Regions from separate parts of the Homo sapiens genome. Here regions 1 and 3 are each reported to be linked to region 2. The links are microRNA targets in miRTarBase. Many come from high-throughput screens and were not tested one by one. Region 2 holds a microRNA gene; each other region holds the end of a gene's coding sequence.

Region 1 (3,000 bases), not on the chromosome of region 2:
CCAATTCTTAGGATTTCTTTTCCTCCGCCACTGCAGTGATTGTTAGAGGTAGTTTTCTTGAATTAATATTAAATCACAGTTCCAGCCCTTGTTATTCTTGTCCTTAGTCCTCCAGGGGGAGCTGGGGTTGCAGGGCAACAGTACAGTCGCGCTTACGACCTGGCTAGAACACAAGGTCAGATGATAAACAGAAGCACAGGAACTCAGCCCATGGCCGCAAGCTGGTCAAGGCCTGCTCACTGTAAACATGGCTCTGTACCATTGAGTTTAACACAATTTTATTAGAAATTAGTGTTTGCTTCCATCACTTATGCTGAGCAACCAAATATTACAGTTATGTGATAAAGGAAAAATTCTTTCCTGCCCAGGACCTGCGCCATCCTTTAGGCCGACCTTGGTCACATACCAAATTCAATAAAACCCAATACTGGCCTGTGTTGTTAACAGCAGGCTGCCAGGTTTCTCAGAAACTGACAAGAAAATCTGACCTTCATCCATACTTTGTTTACTTACCCCTGGGCTGCTTGGAGTTGAAAAATGCACACAGCCAAGAGTTGCTTTCTGAATAGGGCTGGAAACTTTCAAAGAAAACCCCCAAACTTTTAAGTCACAAAGTCTGATTAAAGAAGCTAAGATCATGTCAGTGAGTTCAATGTTAGTATTTTCCTTAAGACCAAGGAGAGATTTTCAGTCAGAGAAGATAAATGCCCAGTCCCAGACTACTGTGCTTTCTCGGCAAAAAAGACTGAGACACTGAGGATGTGAATGTCAAAGTAGTAAGCAGGGACTAAAGGGGATGGGGAGGTCAAAAGGCAAGCATCACAACACCTCAGTGGGGAGCTGGGAATTTGAGTGTTAAAGGACCTCAAGAGGGCAGCTGAGAAAATAGGCCAGTGGTCTCAGGCTGACGCATTCCAGTCTCTGTGGGAAAGTCATAAAGCCAAAGCCTGAATTTGGCCAAAGAAGTGGATTTGTCTTTATCTTGTTACCTCAATGAGGGCTGGAAGAACTAGTAGCTGATCACCAAGGTACCTGACCTGAGAGTCTTAGTGCTGTTTATACATTCAAGACTGTGACTAACATAAAATGCCTAATTAGAAAGTCACATTTCCCCTGTCCCGCCGTCATGTCACTTCAGGTCCTTGTGTCTAACCCTGGGTCTGGCATTTGCCCATAGGCTCTGTGGCATCAGCTATCATAAGAGTAGTCAAGAGAGATGAACTTGATAACCTGTGTTCTCTCCAAAGAGCAGAAAGTGGGTACTATACGTGGCTACGTTGCTTTGTTAGGCTGGCAGAACAGTCCCTCCCTGACAGCATTCCTTTGGAAAATAATTCAGATAAGCTGAATTCTGGTTTGGCCAAGCCAAACAAAAAGGAATGAAAACCAAAGCCCTAAAGAGGAACTCACCTCCTGGCTAGTGCTTGGCATCTCCATGGCTGAGTTACCCAACAAGGAGTGAAGGCCTTCAGGGTGCTTCGGTTGCTCCTGTCATCCCGCGCTCAGAGACACCACTGGGCAGAACCGCCATCCCAGCCAGCACCAACCAAGAGCATAGATGGTGTGGGCAGGGAGTAGATGTGTGGCCAAGCATGTGCCACCTCTGTAGGGGCTGCTGGGAGTTTGCTGTCCTCAGCTGATGGGCATGCCAGCCAACACCATGCAGTGCCCACGGGCTCCACGGTCTTCCTGCCGTGGCTCATGTTTCTGGCCCATGTGACAGCTCTTTGGCTTTACCGTATGTGAGGACAGCATGGCTGGAAGCCAAGGGTACTCAAGAGAATCACAAAGAGCAGTCGTGCTAGACCTAGGAGTCAGTGATGTGACTATGATGTGGGGGTAAAATGTCCTTTCTCACAGGCACCCTGTGAGGACTGCCGGTCCCAGCTTAGCCATCCTTCCCTCCTCGGTGCACTCTGAGCTGCTGGCCAGGCTGCAAAGCCAGAGCTGCTCTGTCGGATGTTTTTTTTTTATTGCTTCCTCTTTATCCCCTCCCTCAGATTGATTCTGCAGGGAAGTGGGGATTAGGGTAGAAAGACATGGGTCAAGGAGATTATCAACCTCCTGAATAACAGTACAAAGTGCTTTAAAGAAACAGATCCCACAGGCATGGAGAAGGGCCAAGGGTTCTGTCATATGTAGGGTCTTGGCACCCTGGAGGGCAAAAGAAATGCTCAGTTTCCTCATTACTAGATTTAGAATTATTCATTTCCTAGATTATTTTTTAAAAACCAAACTTATCAAGCCTGTGCTTAAACACCTTAGGAAAAAAGACGTCCCACTTTCTGCACCAGGGCCTCTACAGCACCAGAACTGCCTTTCCCCCAGCTGAGGCCTAAGGGGCAGTAGCCTTCTGCACAGGGCCTAGGGGAAGGTTCTCAGCAGGAGGTGGGTCAGTCCATATGCCCCAGGGAGCAGAAGCAGCTCCGTCGGGCAGGAAGGGTGATGGTGAGCAGATAGGACAGGACGCAGTCTCCAGAAGTGCTCAGGGGCAAGGCAGGGGAATGTGGTCCCTCCTCTGCCCAGACCCTCTGACCTCTGAGCAGGGCCTGTCATGCCTCTGGGTGCTAGAGCAGAGACCCAGGCAGCAGCAGCATGGGGTGGCCAATGGGGCGGGTTCCACAGGATGGGAGATAGGGCCTCCCGTGCCCTGACTCCCTGAGGGTCTGGTCAGTCGCGATGGGTAGACTGGTGGCCGAGCTGCCGGTCATCGTAAGTGCTGTAGCGCTTGACGTGGATGCGGCGGACACGGTCCCGCAGTTCAAAGGTCTCCTCATCTTCACTGGGGGAAGCCTGGCTGCGGCTACGGCTTGTGGCCTCCAACAAGGAGTTGTCGGGGACGCGGGGAGTCTCATAGAGTAGGACGTTGAGTGTCTCCTCATAGATTCGGGCCTCTGGGAATTCCACCTGGGGTTAGGGAGGAAGAAGGTGGAGCAAGGTTTCATCTTCAAGAGGAAGCCATGCGTCAGAGCGGCTGGCCCTGAGGCTCCATAAGGCCTC
Region 2 (3,148 bases):
GATAGTGGCTTGCCAATATTTAATGCTCTAGCCAGCAGGTTGAAAGTCTCTTTAGAAATTCTTATCTCTTAGAAATTCTTAACTGTCATTTTTGCTAATAGACAATGACAAAATATTCTGCAGAGCCTGTACAACTGCATTGACGTTATATTTCTATATCAACATTAAATAATCCTCACATAGTTTGGTTGTAATTTTTAAAATATCCATTGTAGCTGTCTACAACTGCTGTCCTGCCTAGCCCATTGTGCAGGGCCTTCTCTGCACCAAAGCAATTTCATTGTATAAGTTTTTAAAAAGATATGATCCTGCTGGACTGTGATGCTAGCCAGCATATCAAAATTGAAGCCACTGTGGGAAAAAAAAAAATCCATCCTCAAAAATAAAGCGATTTCTTACTCATTCTGAATCTACCTATAATGTCTATGTTTTTGTGAAAATATGGAAGAGTATATAATGATAACTATTTATCTCTTTAGATGAAAAAATGTAAGCCTTTCTTTCCTTTCTAATAAACACTATCATCTCAGATCCTCCCAGTATCTATTTTAAGGTTTAAGCACCATTACGGAGCCTACAACAATAGATCAGTGACAGGCCTGATCCCATCAATTAACACATTCTAGGGTGGCTGTATGGATTCTGGTTTTCCTACCTCCCTCTTACAGGCCTGGTTTTGACACATTGACATCCCTGGCCTTAAGGATGAATAACCCAGTTAAGGGGAGTTCCTTCCCTGAGACCAATTCCTTTGTAATTAGAGCCAAAATACAAAGGTTGTTAATGACCTAAGGCAAAGTGATATGAACTCTAAGCCAATGAAACCATGACAGCAAGCAGATTTCTAAATAGCAGAGAAGTGGGATCCATTTACTTACATGAAGATTCAGTGCCAAACATGGCTGGCTCCAGAGGCTGCTTTTTAAAAATTAGAAGAAAGAAAAGGGAAAAAAAAAAGAAAGAAAAGCGAGGAGAGTGTACATGTGAGAGTGAAGAGATGAGCCGGCTACACAGCAGGGGTCATGAAGCCAGACAATGCAGTCCAAGCTGTGTCCAGCTGCCAGATTCTCCTGTTACGAGCTTCAGTTTTCTCCCGGTGTGATTGAAATGCAAGGTCTCTTAACAGCACCAAAAACCGAAGAGCTGCTTTTGAAAATCCACTAGGCAAATGAAGGCCGACGTGCCTCTTCTGGGATGCGGTGAGGCTGGACTAGGTAGCAGCAGGGGCAGGACTGGGAGCAGCAGCAACAGCGGATACTGCAATCCCCAGCCCTGCTGTAGCAGTAAGACAATAGCAGGGCTTATGCATACGCTGGATGACGTCAGGGACACTGCACAGACCGACTGCGCTGCTTGAGCCAGAGGCTCCAGGGGCTCCAGGAGAGCAGCGTGATTGAAAGGGGAATTCCTTTGTCACAAAATGCACAAGACCGAGAGCCACGTATACACTCCCCTCCTGCGCAGCTCTTCATCCCATGATACCAGGCAGTAAAAGAGGACTCAAAGAAATTTAAATATTGGCTTTATAGCAATTAACCACAAAGACATCATGCATATCAGTCTTCTTGGTTTTGCGCAGCATATAGAAAGAACTTTTCAAGGGAATTAAGAATATCAGAAATGAGAAACATTATCTGTCTTTAGAAGTAATTACAGAAGAGTTCATTGTTATCTTCTCAAAGCTTATGGTAGATTGACAGATCAAGGATTGTACACTCAATCACAAGTATGTGAAAATATGTATACTATTACACATATATTCTAGGCACATAAATACATACAAATGTAACAGTAAAATAGTAATCTTAAGTACTTAGAACACTGCTTGGCACACAGTGAGTACTCAAATGCAGGCAATTCCATTACTAGCTATTTTGCAACTATTGTTCAAATGTGAAAAACGCTGCTCTAGGAATATATTTACATACATGTATTTCTCCTATTTCTTCATCGTGCCTTACATGAATTTCTGTCATTTTCCAGAGCAACTCAGTCATTTTAAGGCTGTGTGCACACACCTGTGTATACCTCTGTATGAGTAAGCATTTGTGACCAACCCATTTCTTTTTGATCTACCCACACAAAGAAATAATTGAAAATATTTTATCTCTTGACTCACTGGAACAAAAAATGTCTTCCTGTGTTACCATATTCTTATAAATCTGTTTTTAAAGAAAAAGTACTAGAAGCATATGAACTTTCATTAGCTATCCAACACAAGCCAAAAAAAGAGTTTTGTTATGTTTTTAAAATACTGAAATGCACAAAAAGTAAATATATATACATATATACGTAACTTTTAAAATCATATATAGTAGAAAGTTCAATAGTTCAAGTCTCCTCTCCACCCATTCATCCAAGGTATATGCCTTTTCTAATTAATTTCTTGTGTTCACAAAGACATGTCTTGATCTCAATACAGTTTTTAAATATTAAATTCTGCTATGAAAGTGGAACCACATATTACTTTAACATCTAAAAATATCATTAGTACTTTTTCTGGTCAGTATATGTAGGATCTACCTCATCCTTTTAAAGACTGCATAAGATTCCACTGTATGAATGTACCACAGTTTATTCAGGGTAACTTGATCTTTAGCTTACTAAAAATGCTGAGCCATTAAGAAGAACATTTGATGATGCTAAATAAGATAAAGAACAAATCATCTGTTGCGGGAAAGAATAACAATAGCTAATATTTACTGAGTGTTTACTATGTGCCAGGCACTATCCTGGGTCCTTTACATGTATAAACCCATTTAATCTTCATAATAACCCTACAAGGTATATACCACTTTTATCCACATTTGACAGATGGTTAAATACTTTGTCGAGGTCACACAGGTGGTGAATGATATACTGGGCTTCAAACTCAGGAGTCTGGATCCAAAGCAATGCTCTTAAGCACACTACGATAATGCCTCTTTCTTGAACAATGAATAAATAATCAGCAAAATTATATTTAAGGATTTAACTGAAATGAAGGGAAAATAGAAACCAACTCAAAACATGAAGAAAAAAAATCGTTAAAAGAGAAAGGTCATCAGAGAAAGAAAAAAAATCACAGAAAATTGCAGGAATTAATAAAAATGTATACCTTCAAAAACAGTCACATCGACAACCAAGGGGGAATATCAATAATGATGTT
Region 3 (3,000 bases), not on the chromosome of region 2:
CAGGGCCTGGGGCGGGGTGCGGAGACCAGGGCCTGACCGGCACCTGTGCCACAGGAGGTGGAGCCCATGTGCAAGGAGAGCGACCACATCCACATCATTGCGCTGGCCCAGGCCCTCAGCGTGTCCATCCAGGTGGAGTACATGGACCGCGGCGAGGGCGGCACCACCAATCCGCACATCTTCCCTGAGGGCTCCGAGCCCAAGGTCTACCTTCTCTACCGGCCTGGACACTACGATATCCTCTACAAATAGGGCTGGCTCCAGCCCGCTGCTGCCCTGCTGCCCCCCTCTGCCAGGCGCTAGACATGTACAGAGGTTTTTCTGTGGTTGTAAATGGTCCTATTTCACCCCCTTCTTCCTGTCACATGACCCCCCCCCATGTTTTATTAAAGGGGGTGCTGGTGGTGAGCCGTGTGTGCGTGTCCCTGCTCTGCTGCCCGCCTGGCTGCTCTGTCTGCTGCCCCCTCCCCCCAGGTGGGTCCCCCTGCTTTTCACCTATCTACTCCTGAGCTTCCCCAACAGGAGCAGGTTTGAGGGGCCAGGCCTCTTGGAGGCCCCTCCTGCTTCGTTGGGTTCTGCTTCCTTCCCTTCTTAGCTGGCTCAGGGGCTTCTATGGGATCCTGGAAGTTCCTTAGGGACTTGCCCAGGGTCCCAGGGCCACCCACACTTCATCTGCTCCCTCATAGGCCCCACCTCCACGTCCCGGCTGGGCCCCAGACCCCAGCTTCCTGCCCTCCACCGGGAGTCTGCATGGTTGGGAGTCCTGGGTGGAGGGGCCTTTGTGAGGCTGGACCCGGCTCAGGGCAGGTGGAGGAGCTGGGCCTCCCACAGGGTGCCCGGGCAGTGCCATCCTGGTGGGGGAGGGCAGCCTTCAAACGTGTGGGGTCTACAGTCCTCAGGTCTAGGCAGGGCTGCCGGTTCTCCACCTCCCCATCCGCCCCAGGCCCCCTGCCTGTGCCTGCCTTGCACCCCCTCTGCTTGGGCCACGGTGTCTCTGCATTGCCTGCCTTTTTGCCTTCACCTCTTTTCTTCCCCGCCCCCTGCACATTCGGGGTCTCAGCCCCCAGGCTGTGAGCTCCTTGGGGGCAGGCCCTCAATAAATGTGAACTGCTGCTGCCGCCTCTGCCGTCCGCCTGTGCCTCTGCCCGCCTGGCTCACCGAGAGCTCTTGCCAGCCCCTTTCAGTGAAAGCATCTGGCCAGGGGCTCCATCCAACACCTGGGCCGCCTTCCTTCCCCCCAGTCAGAGCTCAGACAGTAGGAGCTGCCACAACGAGATCTTTATTAGGCTCCTCGGGGGCGGGGCGCGGAGGGAAAGAAGGGGTGGCCAGGCCCAGGCCAGGCTGCAGGCTTTGGCGACCTCTCAGAGCTGGGAGCGGGGTCCCGAAGGCGGGTCTGAGGGCAGAGCAGAGTCAGAGGTGTCTATGGGCGTCCCCGACCTCCCAGGCTGCCCCGTGGTTTCCCGCCCTGCTTGGGGGTGAGCGGGGGTTAGTGGGCGGGTTAGTCTAGGGCCGGGGCCGCCGCACGGGGCGAGGCCCTGCTTACCAGTCCCGGTCAGGGTGGGCTGCGGGAGCCTCAGGCTGGAAGGCAGAGGACAGTGAGAGCCCGCCCCCAGGGTGGACCGGGGCAGGGGCGGGCCGTGGGGCGGCGCGGGGCACGTACCCACGGGGAAGTAGTGGGGGAGCCGGCTCCGGTAGATGTCCTCGTCCTTCTCGAGGAACACGCAGATGATCAGCCGGTCCACCTGCGCCAGGGGCTGCTCAGCCTGGGCCGAGCTGCCACGCCTGGCCCCAGGATCCTGTGACTGCCTGCCCTGGTGCAGGCTTTCACCTGCCTGGCCCTGCGCCCTTCACGGAGGCTCACGGCTGTGTGCCATCACCCCCATCTCGCCACCGCCAGGCGCCCTTGCGCAGGAGAAACAGGGAAGGAAGGGGCGGGCCTGGCCCTGCGCTCTGCACCCTGACTCCCTGGGCGATGATGGGGGCTGGTCACTCTGGCCGGGATGCGGACCCCACCCTCGCCCGGGCCCAGGACTCACCTTGTCCTTGTGCTGCTCCAGCCACTCTCGCAGCGTGGCCAGCACGATCTCGGCGGCCGCCTCACAGGGGTAGCCTGAGGCGGGTGGGGCGGGAGTGAGTCCTAGGCTCTGGCCCCGCCCACTCCCCTGTCCGCCCCGGCCCCTCCCGGCGTCTGGGTCCACCGCCCACTCCTGGTCCTTGCCTTTCTTCCAGACTCACCAAACACGCCGGTGGAGATGCAGGGGAACGCCTGGGCGGGGAGGGGTGAGAGGGGGTTGGAACATTGTCACTGCGCCCCGCCTCCCGCCCTCCCCCGCGGGCCGTCCCTCACCACCGAGCGGAGCCGGTGCTCCAGCAGCAGGTCCAGACTGCTCAGGTAGCAGCTGCGGAGCTCGGCAGCCTGACTGGCGCTGGGCTCCCCGTAGGCGATGGGCCCCACTGTGTGGATGACGTCTACGGGGGGCGACGGGGTCAGACCGGCGGGGGTCTACGCGGTCCTCAGCTCCCTCGCTTCCCCCTGCCGGCCTGGGCAGAAGGGGGCAGGAAACACCTTTCCCCCCAAGCGCTGAGCCTCCTCCGCGAAGGCCCCCACCCCTGTGGGCCCCCTCGAGCCCGAATCCGCACGCGCACAGAGCCCCGCGCCCCCTCCCCACATCTGTATGGGCCCGGCTGAGACCCGAGCGCGAGTGTGGGCGCGAAGGCGTTGCCCCCCAGCTCCATCCTCAGCCTCCACGCACGGTCTCCCCCATGTGCTTCCTGGGGTGTGCGGGGTGGGGGCCGGGTCTTGGCCCTTAAGGTTAAGAAGGGCCCCCTGAGGAGTTCCCCAGCACTCCTGTGGGGGCCGCACCCCTGATGTCCCAGTGACACACGGGCGCCCTGTCTGCGCCCCACAGCTGGGGGCGCGTCGGGGACTCACACTTGGCCGGGAGCCGATAGCCGCCGGTGATCTTGGCCTTGCCAGTCTTACAGCTCTGCAGGGTCCGG

The links. Region 2 holds the annotated microRNA hsa-miR-6132 (AGCAGGGCUGGGGAUUGCA, at 1,259-1,277, opposite strand). A microRNA usually pairs through its seed, bases 2 to 8, with sites in the 3' UTR of a target mRNA and lowers its output. Matches are read on the target gene's strand: a 7mer-m8 pairs with bases 2 to 8, a 7mer-A1 pairs with bases 2 to 7 and ends in A, and an 8mer does both.
Region 1: the mRNA of TNFAIP1 is a reported target of hsa-miR-6132. Seed matches in the 3' UTR shown: 7mer-m8 at 2,543-2,549 and 7mer-A1 at 2,009-2,015.
Region 3: the mRNA of OTUB1 is a reported target of hsa-miR-6132. Seed matches in the 3' UTR shown: 7mer-m8 at 274-280 and 7mer-A1 at 1,039-1,045.

What each region holds. Positions count from the first base shown.
Region 1 is chr17:28,344,271-28,347,270 of GRCh38, reverse strand. TNFAIP1 (TNF alpha induced protein 1) reads right to left here. Exons shown (of 7, transcript NM_021137.5): 7 at 262-2,907. The coding sequence ends at 2,671. It overlaps POLDIP2 (DNA polymerase delta interacting protein 2), which reads left to right. Exons shown (of 11, transcript NM_015584.5): 11 at 1-638. Among named protein-coding and RNA genes, the nearest start is that of TNFAIP1, 10 kb to the right of the region's middle. RefSeq lists enhancers at 1,573-2,076, 2,580-3,000.
Region 2 is chr7:117,018,360-117,021,507 of GRCh38, reverse strand. MIR6132 (microRNA 6132) reads right to left here and starts at 1,297; the gene lies at 1,189-1,297. The region is part of intron 1 of ST7 (suppression of tumorigenicity 7); the gene reads right to left. RefSeq lists an enhancer at 1,059-2,258.
Region 3 is chr11:63,997,295-64,000,294 of GRCh38, forward strand. It overlaps OTUB1 (OTU deubiquitinase, ubiquitin aldehyde binding 1), which reads left to right. Exons shown (of 7, transcript NM_017670.3): 7 at 55-1,118. The coding sequence ends at 252. It overlaps MACROD1 (mono-ADP ribosylhydrolase 1), which reads right to left. Exons shown (of 11, transcript NM_014067.4): 5 at 2,933-3,000; 6 at 2,348-2,469; 7 at 2,236-2,266; 8 at 2,037-2,110; 9 at 1,661-1,742; 10 at 1,544-1,578; 11 at 1,264-1,393. The coding sequence ends at 1,574. Among named protein-coding and RNA genes, the nearest start is that of OTUB1, 12 kb to the left of the region's middle. RefSeq lists enhancers at 1-446, 1,383-2,320, 1,894-1,983, 2,321-3,000 and a silencer at 2,114-2,353.